4 linked regions of the Homo sapiens genome follow. The protein of the gene in region 3 interacts with the protein of the main gene of each other region in a pairwise test. Each region holds a gene or a part of one and is shown on either strand. Other genes may lie near its edges.

Region 1 (3,500 bases), on a different chromosome or scaffold from region 3:
CATTTATGATTTTGTGTTTCTCGTGACAGCATGAGCAGAGATCATTAAAAATTAAACTTACAAAGCTGCTAAAGTGGGAAGAAGGAGAACTTGAAGCCACAATTTTTGCACTTGCTTAGAAGCCATCTAATCTCAGGTTTATATGCTAGATCTTGGGGGAAACACTGCATGTCTCTGGTTTATATTAAACCACATACAGCACACTACTGACACTGATTTGTGTCTGGTGCAGCTGGAGTTTATCACCAAGACATAAAAAAACCTTGACCCTGCAGAATGGCCTGGAATTACAATCAGATGGGCCACATGGCATCCCGGTGAAAGAAAGCCCTAACCAGTTTTCTGTCTTGTTTCTGCTTTCTCCCTACAGTTCCACCAGGTGAGAAGAGTGATGACCATCCTTTTCCTTACTATGGTTATTTCATACTTTGGTTGCATGAAGGCTGCCCCCATGAAAGAAGCAAACATCCGAGGACAAGGTGGCTTGGCCTACCCAGGTGTGCGGACCCATGGGACTCTGGAGAGCGTGAATGGGCCCAAGGCAGGTTCAAGAGGCTTGACATCATTGGCTGACACTTTCGAACACGTGATAGAAGAGCTGTTGGATGAGGACCAGAAAGTTCGGCCCAATGAAGAAAACAATAAGGACGCAGACTTGTACACGTCCAGGGTGATGCTCAGTAGTCAAGTGCCTTTGGAGCCTCCTCTTCTCTTTCTGCTGGAGGAATACAAAAATTACCTAGATGCTGCAAACATGTCCATGAGGGTCCGGCGCCACTCTGACCCTGCCCGCCGAGGGGAGCTGAGCGTGTGTGACAGTATTAGTGAGTGGGTAACGGCGGCAGACAAAAAGACTGCAGTGGACATGTCGGGCGGGACGGTCACAGTCCTTGAAAAGGTCCCTGTATCAAAAGGCCAACTGAAGCAATACTTCTACGAGACCAAGTGCAATCCCATGGGTTACACAAAAGAAGGCTGCAGGGGCATAGACAAAAGGCATTGGAACTCCCAGTGCCGAACTACCCAGTCGTACGTGCGGGCCCTTACCATGGATAGCAAAAAGAGAATTGGCTGGCGATTCATAAGGATAGACACTTCTTGTGTATGTACATTGACCATTAAAAGGGGAAGATAGTGGATTTATGTTGTATAGATTAGATTATATTGAGACAAAAATTATCTATTTGTATATATACATAACAGGGTAAATTATTCAGTTAAGAAAAAAATAATTTTATGAACTGCATGTATAAATGAAGTTTATACAGTACAGTGGTTCTACAATCTATTTATTGGACATGTCCATGACCAGAAGGGAAACAGTCATTTGCGCACAACTTAAAAAGTCTGCATTACATTCCTTGATAATGTTGTGGTTTGTTGCCGTTGCCAAGAACTGAAAACATAAAAAGTTAAAAAAAATAATAAATTGCATGCTGCTTTAATTGTGAATTGATAATAAACTGTCCTCTTTCAGAAAACAGAAAAAAAACACACACACACACAACAAAAATTTGAACCAAAACATTCCGTTTACATTTTAGACAGTAAGTATCTTCGTTCTTGTTAGTACTATATCTGTTTTACTGCTTTTAACTTCTGATAGCGTTGGAATTAAAACAATGTCAAGGTGCTGTTGTCATTGCTTTACTGGCTTAGGGGATGGGGGATGGGGGGTATATTTTTGTTTGTTTTGTGTTTTTTTTTCGTTTGTTTGTTTTGTTTTTTAGTTCCCACAGGGAGTAGAGATGGGGAAAGAATTCCTACAATATATATTCTGGCTGATAAAAGATACATTTGTATGTTGTGAAGATGTTTGCAATATCGATCAGATGACTAGAAAGTGAATAAAAATTAAGGCAACTGAACAAAAAAATGCTCACACTCCACATCCCGTGATGCACCTCCCAGGCCCCGCTCATTCTTTGGGCGTTGGTCAGAGTAAGCTGCTTTTGACGGAAGGACCTATGTTTGCTCAGAACACATTCTTTCCCCCCCTCCCCCTCTGGTCTCCTCTTTGTTTTGTTTTAAGGAAGAAAAATCAGTTGCGCGTTCTGAAATATTTTACCACTGCTGTGAACAAGTGAACACATTGTGTCACATCATGACACTCGTATAAGCATGGAGAACAGTGATTTTTTTTTAGAACAGAAAACAACAAAAAATAACCCCAAAATGAAGATTATTTTTTATGAGGAGTGAACATTTGGGTAAATCATGGCTAAGCTTAAAAAAAACTCATGGTGAGGCTTAACAATGTCTTGTAAGCAAAAGGTAGAGCCCTGTATCAACCCAGAAACACCTAGATCAGAACAGGAATCCACATTGCCAGTGACATGAGACTGAACAGCCAAATGGAGGCTATGTGGAGTTGGCATTGCATTTACCGGCAGTGCGGGAGGAATTTCTGAGTGGCCATCCCAAGGTCTAGGTGGAGGTGGGGCATGGTATTTGAGACATTCCAAAACGAAGGCCTCTGAAGGACCCTTCAGAGGTGGCTCTGGAATGACATGTGTCAAGCTGCTTGGACCTCGTGCTTTAAGTGCCTACATTATCTAACTGTGCTCAAGAGGTTCTCGACTGGAGGACCACACTCAAGCCGACTTATGCCCACCATCCCACCTCTGGATAATTTTGCATAAAATTGGATTAGCCTGGAGCAGGTTGGGAGCCAAATGTGGCATTTGTGATCATGAGATTGATGCAATGAGATAGAAGATGTTTGCTACCTGAACACTTATTGCTTTGAAACTAGACTTGAGGAAACCAGGGTTTATCTTTTGAGAACTTTTGGTAAGGGAAAAGGGAACAGGAAAAGAAACCCCAAACTCAGGCCGAATGATCAAGGGGACCCATAGGAAATCTTGTCCAGAGACAAGACTTCGGGAAGGTGTCTGGACATTCAGAACACCAAGACTTGAAGGTGCCTTGCTCAATGGAAGAGGCCAGGACAGAGCTGACAAAATTTTGCTCCCCAGTGAAGGCCACAGCAACCTTCTGCCCATCCTGTCTGTTCATGGAGAGGGTCCCTGCCTCACCTCTGCCATTTTGGGTTAGGAGAAGTCAAGTTGGGAGCCTGAAATAGTGGTTCTTGGAAAAATGGATCCCCAGTGAAAACTAGAGCTCTAAGCCCATTCAGCCCATTTCACACCTGAAAATGTTAGTGATCACCACTTGGACCAGCATCCTTAAGTATCAGAAAGCCCCAAGCAATTGCTGCATCTTAGTAGGGTGAGGGATAAGCAAAAGAGGATGTTCACCATAACCCAGGAATGAAGATACCATCAGCAAAGAATTTCAATTTGTTCAGTCTTTCATTTAGAGCTAGTCTTTCACAGTACCATCTGAATACCTCTTTGAAAGAAGGAAGACTTTACGTAGTGTAGATTTGTTTTGTGTTGTTTGAAAATATTATCTTTGTAATTATTTTTAATATGTAAGGAATGCTTGGAATATCTGCTGTATGTCAACTTTATGCAGCTTCCTTTTGAGGGACAAAT
Region 2 (3,500 bases), on a different chromosome or scaffold from region 3:
ACCCCAAGAGGCCAGGCATCACTGGCCTGTGTGATCCTCATAGGCCAGTCCATCTCTGGAATTCTTGAATGGATCATCCATCCTTGATTAGGGATGTCCCCGTGATTACCAGGGTGTGCAGAAGGGCTCTGGGAAACCTGTGGGTCTGTCTCTGTGTTCAGAGAAAGGTGAGGGTGGCCTGGTTCTAGCTCATGGTGCTCAGACTGTGGTGTGTAAAGGCACTCGTGGCAATGCAGATTCCTGGGCCTGCCTCTAGTGATTCCCATTCAGTAGGTTTGGGGTGGGGCCCAGGAAATCTATATTTTTCACAGACACCCCTGGTGATTCTGATACAAGTGGTCTCGCCCTGGGAGAACTACTGGTCTGCAGCAACCAGCTTGGTTTTCCATTAGCAATTACTGTCCTTGAGCGAGTTTTACTGCTCTTCACCTTACACACACTAAAACTGCCAAGGCCGTAGGGGAGGGGAAGCAACCATGAGGTTGCTGTGAGTGCACTGTGTGTGTGTGTGTGTGTGTGTGTGTGTGTGTGTGTGTGTATGAGAGAGAGAGAGAGATTGAGAAAGAGAGGAAGGGAGGAAGGGGGAGGGCACAGGCTCCTCTCCCACAGTGCCAACCTGCCTCTCTCCCACTTGAAGTGTTTCCATGCCAACTGAAATCCTCAGCCTCTAGGAAACCCTATATACACAGTGCCCCTATATAGGTTTCTTTAGACTCTGGCTCTCTCAGACTCTAGAGTGATGGCTTTAAAAGTTTTTTGAATGTTACCCACAATGATTGAGAAAGAGAGAGAGAGAGCACGCACCACCATGTAAACATGGAACCTAAGTTTCACAAAATGACTTCGCTTTATGAACTCTGAGACACTCTGCTCTCTTCTGTTCTGTTCTATTTCCATTTTAGAAATGCTGCTCAGGACCTTCAAAATGATTTGCATGACCTGCAACCTGCAGTCTGAAAAATCACTGCACTACAGAAGTGGCCATAAGAGGCCCTGAGGGAGAAGCTGCACAATGTCATGGTTAAGAGTGGGGTTTGGAGCCAAGCCGCCTAGGCTCAAAGCCTTTATGTGCCGTACAACCTTGGCAAAGTCACTTCGCTTGTCTGTGCCTCAGTTTCTTTCTCACGAATGCTCATAATAATGGTTCCCATTTCACTGGCTTGTTGTGAGGATGAAATAGTGTTATTATTGAGAAGTGGTAAGGGTAGTGATCAGTGCTAGCGATCATGATTCTAGGTGACTTTTACTGTGTACCGGGTGCTCACAAGGCTTTATGTGCACAGCCTGGTGAGGCTGATAATACTATTGTTCCCTCTTTTTTTTTTTTTGAGACGGAGTCTCGTTCTGTTGCCCAGGCAGGGGGTACAGTGGCACAATCTCGGCTCATGCAAGCTCTGCCTCCCGGGTTCACGCCATTCTCCTGCCTCAGCCTCCCAAGTAGCTGGGACTACAGGCGCCTGCCACCACGCCCGGCTAATTTTTTTGTATTTTTGGTAGCGACAGGGTTTCACTGTGTTAACCAGGATGGTCTCGATCTCCTGACCTCGTGATCCGCCCGCCTCGGCCTCCCAAAGTGCTGGGATTACAGGCGTGAGCCACCGTGCCCGGCCTGTTCCCTCTTTTATAGATGAAGAGACCAGCAAATAACTAGTAAGTCGCTGATCAGGATCACAATATCCAGCTGAGGCACTCCAGAGCCTGAGCTGTTAACCATTCAGTCAGGGCCTCCCAAGTTTGCCTAAAGATAAAGAATCATGTGCACAGTTGTTAAAATATACAGATTCCTGGGCCCCACCCCGCAGATACTTGATTGCCAGCTCCAGGGTATGGGCCTGAGAATCTGTCTTTTAGGGAAGCTTTCAGATGATGTTGTGATCAGGTGAGTTTTGGGAATGGTGCCCCAAGAGGAGTGGCAGACAGGGCTTGCTCGGCAGGGACTAGCCTGTTGGAGTGGTGCCATTGGGGTTAAGGACTGGGCAGCAGGGCCTCACTAACCACAGCCTATATGCCTGTTTCTGAAGTTTTGGCCACTCTCATCCAGCTGGTCTACTGTCTGCTGACCTAGATGATGGTAAATTGTCCCCAGGGGTAGCCTGTCTAGTTCAGGCTGCACCTTTCGCATATATCAGCTCCTTTCCACCATCATCCCCTTTGTGAGGCTGCTGTGATTATCATGTTCCTTTTGCAGAGATGGAAACATTGCCTCAAATTAGCTCTGTCATTTCCTAAGGATTCCAGGGTTCTTTAGTAGGGGGTCTGGATCCTACGTCCTGGGCCATCCCCATCATAGTGCACCACGTCACCTCCCTGGCCAGGGACCGTGGGGTCTCCACTTTTTTGGGGTGCTCCATCTATGCAGGGTTTCCTGGAAGCACAGATGCTGGCACTTCAGGGATGAATGAAAGTCTTTTTGGGGGATTTGTAGATTTTTTTCTTGTCTTACTAGCTCCATTTTCAAATGTATTTATTTTGTCTCTTTAGTTTGCGCGATAACAATATCTCAGACCGAGGCATCTGCAAGCTCATTGAATGTGCTCTTCACTGCGAGCAATTGCAGAAGTTAGCGTAAGTCAGCCTGGGCTGTGGACAATGGGCTCCAAGTGCCCTGGTCTCACCCCAGGTCGTGCAGCCTGGGAAGCTGTGAGTGATGGGCTGGGGCAGGGGCTGTTTGCATGATGGGGGGTGCAGGTGATTCCTGCCCAGAGGGGAAGGGCAACCCTGGGATTTGGTGCTCACTGTCCAATGTGCTTTGCTTCTGTGTCTCCTCTCTTCTGGAACTGAACAGTCTATTCAACAACAAATTGACTGACGGCTGTGCACACTCCATGGCTAAGCTCCTTGCATGCAGGCAGAACTTCTTGGCATTGAGGTGAGCCCAGGTTTTCCTTATTCCCTGGAAACTATTTTTTGCCCCATTCCTGAGTCAGTCTGATCTGGTCTTGGCCTGGCACTGCCCACACTGGCTCCTGACCTCCTGATTGAATGCAGGGACAGTGTCTCATTTTAAGCAGGGGTTCTCTAATGCTGTGATCTCCCCAGTAAACTCTGGACTAGCTCTGCTGAGGACTTCCTGTCTTTTGACCTTTAGCCCGTAGGGCAAGAAAGCTTTTCTAGGCCCCTTTCCTTTTCTGTGTCTAAGAGTGTCACAGCTTTCTGGGTTTACTGAGTTCCACGATGCATGTTGAGCTCGTCCTGGTGGGGGAGGCATACACAGTTACTTGCCACCCCAGCTGTGGCAGCGAGTTGCTGCAACACTCCCAGGAGGTCCTTTCACCACTCAGAGCATGCAAGGTTTGCAGTCCATCTGGTTCTGCATTTCTGCTACTCCAGTGTCTCCCAGTTTCAACAGGAGTCTCTCTCTCTCCTACCTGATGCCTTTAAATTGCCCCTCTAGCTGGCCGCTGGGTTGGCCTGGCTTCTCTCTCCTTCTCTCTCTCTCAGATATTCTTGCCTCCTGTGATTTGTGAGGCAGTAAAAAAAGACAAAGTAAAGAATTGCTT
Region 3 (5,235 bases):
TGTAAGCCACTGTGCCTGACCGAAAAACCAATTTTTAAATTTTAATTTTAGAATTGTGGTCTTTTAATTTTTTTAGCAAATCGAAATAAAAATACAGTTTCTAAAGAAAAGATTGTGTGAGACATGGTTTTCAATTTTTGTCGTAAGAATGAATGTGTGTGTATATGTGTGTTTGTGTGTGTATGTGTGTGTGTGACGGCCCTCTTTTAAAATTATTACAAAAGTGGCCGGGCGCGGTGGCTCACGCCTGTAATCCCACCACTTTGGGAGGCCAAAGCGGATGGATCATCTGAGGTCAGGAGTTTGAGACCAGCCTGGCCAACATGGTGAAAGCCTGTCTCTACTAAAAATACAAAAATTAGCTGGGTATGGTGGCAGGCGCCTGTAATCCTAGCCACTTGGGAGGCTGAGGCAGGAGAATCTCTTGAACCCGGGAGACGGAGGCTGCAGTCAGCCAAGATCATACCAGTGCACTCCAGTCTGGGTAACAGAGCAAGACTCCATCTCAAAAAATTAGAAAATAATAAAATTATTACAAAATAGTTACTTGTTGAAAAACTCAACAATATAGATAGTAGGTATAAGGGGAAAAGTAAAAGTGCTTCTTCCCACCCCCATTAATTCTTCAAATTCTACCCTTCAAGGTAACCAATATTAAAATTTTTCATTCAGTAAATTTTCTAGGCCTATCTTTCTATGTATATATGTATATATGTTCATATACACATACTTTAAAGGCATATCAAATTTAAAAGTGTAGCTTTATATCACACTGAGGTTTTTTTCTTGAAGCAGGTGCTGTATTTACAATTATATAAAAGCACGCAGAAATTGTATTTAGCTCTGAAAATATAGCACAAGCTTTGTAGGGATTCCTTTTTCCCTGAAAATTACTTTTAACATCAAAAGCAAAAGTCATACAGAAATCCCATCCTGATTTTCTCCAGTAGGTAAGGAGTTGGGTCATATCCTTTAAGATTGTTTATGATCTATATATAATCTGTTTTTTAATTTTTAATTAAATTTTTTTTACCGTTATGTGTTTTGAGAGATGGGGGTCTCGCTTTTTTGCCCAGGCTGGCTGTTGCCCTGGCTACACAGTGCGGTGGCATGGTCATAACTCTATGTGGTCTCCCACTCCTGGGCTCAAGCAATCCTTCTGCTTCAGCCTCCCAAGTAGTCAGGACTACAGGGGACTATAGGTGTGCACCACAATACTTGGCTAGTATGATCTATAATCTAGAGCAGTTTCTCAAGAGCAACATATAGACATTTTGGGACAGAGAATTCTTTGTTGTGAGGGGCTCTCCTGTGCATTAGAAGCATCCCTGGCCTCTACCCACTAGATGCCAGTAGAACCCGATTATGATAGCCAAAAATTGTTCAGACGTTGCCAAATGTCTCCTAGGGACAAAATCACTCCTGGTTGAGAGCTACCGGTCTAGAGGCCACTCTTGTCAGGAATGGTAGTTTTGTTATACTCTGTATTCAAACTTAAGGTAAACAAGGTGAGTCACTGCTTTTAATAGCATTTCAGGACTTATGCTTATAACCTGAACAAGGGAGAAATAGAAGGTACTGAAAGGTTTAATATAAAACTAGCATGCACTGCTGTAAATTTTCTATGGTAAATGTATCATTTTGGGGAACTTTCACTTAAAATATATTATTTTTCAAAAAGTTCAGTTGTCCATGAAAATGAATTTTTAAAAAACTTTTATGGGGACTTCCAGTTTGTTCAAAGTAGAAATGCTTTATTCCATAAATTATCATTTGTAGTGATAACATAGGAAATATAACTTTGTATTCTAGTGGGCTAATTTTGGAGACTTTGGAAATGCTTATTGAATAAAAAGAATTATATGTTATTACTGTAACAATTTTTTTTTTTTTTTTTTGAGTCAGAGGAGCCTTGCTCTGTCACCCAGGCTGGAGTGCAGTGGCAGGATCTCGGCTCACTGCAGCCTCCACCTCCTGGGTTCAAGTGATTCTCCTGCCTCAGCCTCCTGAGTAGCTGGGACTACAGGCCCGTGCCACCACGCTCGGCTAATTTTTTGTATTTTTAGTAGAGACGGTGTTTCACTGTGTTACCCAGGATGGTCTCGGTCTCCTGACCTTGTGATCCACCCGCCTCAGCCTCCCAAAGTGCTGGGATTACAGGTGTGAGCCACCGCGCCCAGCCACAATTTTTTGTATGTTGCACAAATATCAACCTTTCACAAGCTTCATGATGTAAAGCCTTAAGACTTTACATATAAAATGATGCATTGATAAGTATATTTATGTGAATGGTGGGGTTGATGCAGAGTTGATTAGTATGGGTGGAGGAAAACTTTTTGGGAAACTTTAAGTATGAGAGGTTTTTGTTGTTATTAGTATATTTTCAATAGATAATTACATTCATATAGTTCATAAGTCAAAGTAATATAAGGGCAGATACAGTGAAGTCTCAATCTCACCCTGCTCCCACATATCTTGCTCTTTATACTTTTAATAAAAGTATTATATAGCCTTTCAGAATTTCTTTATGAAAATACAACTATGTGTATTTTCCCTACTGTTACACAGATGGTAAGATGCTATTTATGTGAAATTTTTAAATGGTAAATTTGAGAAGGATTTAGACTTTTTTAAAAAATTAAAGTGATAAATTATGTTATGAATGAAGGATGGAGGTGAGTTTAAGCACATTCCTTTCTGAGTCTATTTGTTAGTAGAGTGCTGATTGACTAGATGAATTCAAAATCAGTTCTGGCCTTCTGATTCAGTGATCACTAATATAAATAAAATATGTTACTTTAAAGAAAAGCAAAACAGTTTTAAACAGTTTTAGCCTTGAATTGGCAAGTAAACAAAATAAATGACAAGTTTACCAAATTTTTTTTTTTGGCCAAATTTACTTTCTCAGAACTAAAGTTGTAATAAATAAAATCAATTCTTTTTTTAAACCCACTATAAAGGAACTGTTTCAATGTATCTGTCTTCACAGACCTTATTGATCACATTTCCCTCTCCTATTGCTTGTCTATAGAGTCATAGAATCTTGGTGATAATCCTATCTCATCTCATTTTTAGGTAACTGCTACCATTTATTGAATGCTTATTATATACCAGTACCGTACTAGATACTTTCGTTATTTTATTTAATCGTTTCATCACCCCTTTGAGGTAGGTATTATCTACATTTTTATAGATGAATAAGTGTAGGCTCAGAGAGTTTTTAGAGTAATGAATCTAAAAAACAAAAAAATGGTTAAAATGTTATATGGCTAGTGACTGGTAAAGGTGGGATTTGAATGTGATACTGAATTTAGAGCCCATACTGTTATTTTGCTTCAAATTAAGAAATATGTAGTTTTTGGTTACCAAATGCTGTTTTTTAAATAAATCATTGTTTAGTTCCTATTGAAGTTTTCACAGATGTAAAGTAAAATGGAGAAAATAAGCAGGATGTAGTGAATTTCTAATGAAGCTATTTTTTCCCACTTTTTTCTATTTTGACAAATACTCTTCCTACTTTTACAAAATGAATTTTTAAAACTATCTGTACTTAACAGAATATCAACTGGAAACTTCATTTGGGACCCTGGATAAAAGCCTCAGAAGTCTGGGAACTGTTGAGCTAAATGACTTGCCCAGATCACACAGTTAATATGTAGCAGTCAAGACTGAAAAATAGGCCATCTGATTCCCATTCTAGTTATCCTACCTTCCAGATTCTCCTAACTTTCTTTTGATGCATTATATTAATGAGTTTAATTAGTTGCTTATAAATGCCTCTTTCAAACTATTATAGTTTATAATCCATAGTTGATCTTGTTGGAAAAGTTTTTTTTTTTTTTTGGCTGTTTTTTTTTTGGTTTGTTTGAGAACGGAGTCTCACTCTGTTGCCCAGGCTGGAGTGTAATGGTGCAATCTTGGCTCACTGCAACCTCTGCCTCCCGAGTTCAAGCAATTCTCCTGCCTCAGCCTCCTGAGTAGCTGGGATTATAGGCGGCCACCACCATACCCAGCTAATTTTTTTTTGTATTTTTAGTAGAGATGGGGTTTCACCATGTTGGCCAGGCTGGTCTCGAACTCCTGACCTCAGACTATCTGCCCACCTCAGCCTCCCAAAGTGCTGGGATTATAGGCTTGAGCCACTGTGCCTGGCCTTTTTTTAAATTTTTTTTTTTTTGAGACAGGGTCCCGTTATGTCACCCAAGCTGGAGTGCGGTGGTGCAGGAGTGCAGTGGCTCACGATCGTATGGCGCAATCACGGCTCAGGCAGCCTTGACCTTCTGGGCTCAAGCGATCCTCCCCTTTCAGCCTCCCAAGTGTCTGGGACCACAGGCGCACACCACCGTACCCTGCTAATTTTTAAATTAAATTTAATTAATTAATTTTTTCCGACACACAGTCTTAGTTGCCCAGGCTGGAGTGCAGTGGCGGATCTCAGCTCACTGCAACCTCCGCCTCCTGGGTTCAGGCAATTCTCCTGCCTTAGCCTCCCAAGTAGCTAGGATTACAGGTGCGTGCCACCATGCCCCGCTAATTTGTTGTATTTTTAGTAGAGATGGGGTTTCACCATGTTGACCACGCTGGTCTCAAACTCCTGACCTTGTGATCTGCCCACCTCCCAAAGTGCTGCGATTACAGGCGTGAGCCACCGTGCCCGGCTATTTTTTTTGTAGTTACAAGGTCTCATTATGTTGTCCAGGCTGGTCTCAAACTCCTGAGCTCAAGGGATCCTCCTGCAGTGGCCTCCCAGAGGGCCAAGATTACAGGCATGAGCTACCACGCCTGGCCGGAAAAGTTTTATATTTTTTAATGAAATTACTGTCATGTAGATCAGCATAAGAGAGTGTACCACTAGAGTATAGGGGGAGCACTATTCTAAAGAAATTTTGTAATGAACTTAATTGGAAAGTTCAGGTCTTTCATTATTCATTTAAAAAGGATTAAGAAATAATTAAAACCATTGAAATAGAAAGGCATATGCCCAACTTTGCAGCTTTGCCAATATGGGAAATATTTGTTTTACAATATTGTTATATTCCAATTATTTTGTAAAAATTGTAATCTGCTTTTCTATTGATAGTTACAGACAGTGCATGGTTCCTGTGAGTAAAGATCAATTGACTTATGATGATTGACTAGTTTACCTTTCTTCCTGCCAAGTTTACCTAAACCAGGAAGAAAGTAAGGTTGTATATAAAAAAATTTGTTGGACTGAAATTTAGCAACTATTTGTGG
Region 4 (3,500 bases), on a different chromosome or scaffold from region 3:
TTTTCATAACATATTTTCTAAGAACTAAAGAGAGGGGTTTTTTTTTTTTTCTATCTTTTGAGATGGAGTCTCACTCACTCTGTTGCCCGGGCTAGAGTTTAATGGCAGCGATGTCAGTTCACTGCAATGTCCTCCTCCTGAGTTCAAGCGATTCTCCTGCCTCAGCTTCCAAGATATCTGAGATTAAAGGCATTTGGCACCATGCTTGGCTAATTTTTGTATTTTTAATAGGGATGGAGTTTCACCATGTTGGCCAGGCTGGTATTGAACTCCTGACCTCAAGTGATCTGCCCGCCTCAGCCTCACAAGGTGCTGGGATTACAGAAGTGAGCCACCACACCCAGCCTTTTTTTTTTTTTTTTTTCCCTTAAGAGACGTGGTCTTTCTGTTGCCCAGGCTAGGGTGATGCAATCATGGCTCACTGCAGCCTCCAGCTCCTGGGCTCAAGCAGTCCTCCTTTCTCAGCCTCACAAGTAGCTGGGACTACACATACCACCATGCCCAGCTAATTTTTTAAAGTTTTTCTAGAGACAGGGTCTCTTTGTGTTGGCCAGGCTGATCTTGAACTCCTAGCCGCAGGCAGTCCTCCCATCTCAGCCTCCCAAAGTGCTGGGATTACAAGGGCATGAACCATTATGTCCAATAGCAGGAAAATTTTTATGTAAAGCAATTTATTTTTATTTTTATTATTAATTTCTGTTACAGAATCTTCATTCCTGCCTTTACCAGTTTGCAAGGGCTGCCATAAGAAAGTATTACATAACAATATAGCAATGTATTTTCTTACCATTCTGGAGGCTAGAAGTGCAAGATCAGGGTGTCAGCAGGGTTGGTTTCTTCTGATGTCTTTTTTGTTGGCTTGTAGATGGTCATGCTCTGTGTCTTCACATGGGCCTCCCTCTGTATGTGTCTGTATCCACATTCCCTTTTCTTATAAGGACACCACTCCAATTGGATTAAGGCCCACCCTCATGACATCACTTTAATTACCTTTTTAAAGACCTTATCTTTAAAAACAGTGACATTTTGAGGTACTGAGGGTTAGAACTTCAACATACGGGTTGGAGACTGAGCACAACTCAGTCTATGACTCTGCCCCTTCCCACTGATAACTGTAATCAGTTCATCACTTTTTATCTAGACTGTGGCAGCCCCCCACCCCCAATTCTCTGCCTTTTTTCTTTCACCACTATTGTGTAAAGCAGTTTTTATTACCAAGTAGAAATGATTCTTGGACATTGGAGACAGCTGAATTTTGAAGTTGTTTAACTTTTAAATGGAAGAGAGTTATGAATTTTTGTTTCAAGGTAGGTCACTACCATTCTCTTAAGAGTAACACAGTAATTCAGTGTTTCAGAATATTGGCTTCCCCTTATTGATGATATATTTTTTGTCATTCTCTTTAGTATTAAAAACAATATATTTGTATAGGTTTTATTACAAAAGTAATATATGTTTATTATTGGGGCACAAGGAAACTTTTGGGGGTTTTGGATATATGTGTTGACTATCTTGATTGTGGTGATGATTTCATGAGAATATAAGTGCATATATCAAAACTTACCAAATTGTATACTGTAAATAAATAAGTGCTGTTTATCATATGACAGTTATATCATAATAAAACTGCTTAATTTTTTTGCTGATTTGATGACTAAAGACTTGGACTTACTTTGATGTTAATGTGAATTTTCGTGACAGTTAGTGAGGTTGAGCATTTTTATTAGTTGTTTGTATTTCATTTTCAATGAATTGTTCAGATACACAGTTTGCCTGTTTTTCTCTTGGGATGTGTGTGTGTTTGTGTGTACATGTGTGTCTGTCTTGTCAACTTGGTTAACCCACTCTGGGACTAGTGATAATAACCCAGCATCTCTCTTACCTTTTGCTAATATTTTCTCCTAGTTGATTTTTCTTTTTTGTTTTTCGTATTTTTTAGGGACAGAGTCTCTCTCTGTGGTATAGGCTGTAGTGGCTTGTGGTCCAAAGTGGGCTCTCCACCTACTTTTAATTTAAAGGAAAGATTTTTGCCCCTTTGGCATCTAGTCCACTTAAATATGGTTGTGGGCCTGTCTAGTAACTACACATTAACAAAAGTGAGTGTGTGTGTGTGTGTGTGTGTGTGTGTGTGTGTGTCTGTCCACATACATATATCTATGTGTGTATGTGTAATAATATTTTCTCCAATCCTGGAGCAATAAGCATTCCATTTTACCTATGCAGTGAGAGAATATTCAGAGAATTCCATATACTCACTTTAAAAATAGTTACGTAACAAGGATTCAAAGTCACTTTTTCTTTCTCTTGTTGTTTGTTTTAGGGTAACCAGGAGCCGACAACAACTCCTGACGCAATGGTTCAGCCTTTTACTACCATCCCATTTCCACCACCTCCGCAGAATGGAATTCCCACAGAGTATGGGGTGCCACACACTCAAGACTATGCCGGCCAGACCGGTGAGCATAACCTGACACTCTACGGAAGTACGCAAGCCCACGGGGAGCAGAGCAGCAACTCACCCAGCACACAAAATGGATCTCTTACGGTACGTGGACCATGAGGTGAAAAATGGAAGGATGCATGGCAATCATATAGAAATTGTCGCCTTAATTATACAATTAGAAGACTCTCGGAATTAATTTAGCATTTACACCTGTTCTCATTTACACCTTCTCTCAACAGCATTGTATACATTGTCCTCCCTCCTCCTAGAAATACTTAGTCTCTTGGCTTTTCGAGCTCTCCCAATTTTCCTGCCAAGCACTGGGTGTTCTGCTCCTGCCTCCTTCTCTGTTCAACTTTTAAATGGTGCAGTACTCCATATGTAGGTCCTGGAACCCCTTTTCTTTTTATTTTATATCCTTTCTCTGCATAATTATACTACCAAACTCAAGCAAAACCTAGGAATATTCTTTCTTTCTTTCTTTCATCTGTACATCTAATTGATTAGCAAGTCTTGACAACCATAACTCTAAAACTACTTCGTCTTCTTCTCTACATCTTATTACTCTTCCACCAAATTGCTTGTGTTTGAATCTCAATATGGCCCCTACTAAACTGTGTGACCTTGGACCAGTTATTTAATCTCTCTGCCCTTGGCTCACTCTAAAATGAAGATAATAGTACCTACCTGAAGAGGCTGTTAGGAAATTTAAAAGAATTTATCATCATCACTGCTCTAGTCCAAACCTCATCACTTATTTCCGGTATTACTGTTGCCTAACTTATCTATCCTCCACATAGGACTAAGGTGGTTTTTTTTTTTTTTTAATGCAAATGCCGATTTCCTACTTAACTCTTAATAGTTCCCTAATGCAATTAGAATATAATCTGAACTCCGTACTTGGTTTACTAGTCTCTAGCCCCAGCTTACCTCTTTGACTTCACCTCTTACTACTAACTTGCTAAAGTAAAGGAAATGTCATAAATTAATAATAGGTATATATCTCATACATACCAACATATGGGAAATTGTATTGTCTCTTGCTTTGTTGTCCAGG

What was found.
Region 1: the proteins of ANKHD1 (region 3) and BDNF interact in binary tests that used the Homo sapiens proteins (3 or more experiments, as listed by UniProt).
Region 2: the proteins of ANKHD1 (region 3) and NOD2 interact in binary tests that used the Homo sapiens proteins (3 or more experiments, as listed by UniProt).
Region 4: the proteins of ANKHD1 (region 3) and RBFOX2 interact in a two-hybrid assay, tested with the Homo sapiens proteins (one large-scale study listed by BioGRID).

The regions. Positions count from the first base shown.
Region 1 is NC_000011.10:27,655,456-27,658,955, reverse strand, and holds part of BDNF (neurotrophic factor BDNF precursor form isoform a preproprotein), read left to right. Parts: exon of another isoform or gene 1-370; coding exon of another isoform or gene 371-391; coding exon 392-1,135; 3' UTR 1,136-3,500. UniProt on the Homo sapiens protein: Important signaling molecule that activates signaling cascades downstream of NTRK2. During development, promotes the survival and differentiation of selected neuronal populations of the peripheral and central nervous systems.
Region 2 is NC_000016.10:50,714,106-50,717,605, forward strand, and holds part of NOD2 (nucleotide-binding oligomerization domain-containing protein 2), read left to right. Parts: intron 1-902; coding exon of another isoform or gene 903-903; exon of another isoform or gene 904-1,376; intron 1,377-1,503; exon of another isoform or gene 1,504-1,650; intron 1,651-2,481; coding exon 2,482-2,565; intron 2,566-2,785; coding exon 2,786-2,869; intron 2,870-3,500. UniProt on the Homo sapiens protein: Pattern recognition receptor (PRR) that detects bacterial peptidoglycan fragments and other danger signals and plays an important role in gastrointestinal immunity.
Region 3 is NC_000005.10:140,407,670-140,412,904, forward strand, and holds part of ANKHD1 (ankyrin repeat and KH domain-containing protein 1), read left to right. Parts: intron 1-5,235. UniProt on the Homo sapiens protein: May play a role as a scaffolding protein that may be associated with the abnormal phenotype of leukemia cells. Isoform 2 may possess an antiapoptotic effect and protect cells during normal cell survival through its regulation of caspases.
Region 4 is NC_000022.11:35,808,825-35,812,324, reverse strand, and holds part of RBFOX2 (RNA binding protein fox-1 homolog 2), read left to right. Parts: intron 1-2,320; coding exon 2,321-2,545; intron 2,546-3,500. UniProt on the Homo sapiens protein: RNA-binding protein that regulates alternative splicing events by binding to 5'-UGCAUGU-3' elements. Prevents binding of U2AF2 to the 3'-splice site.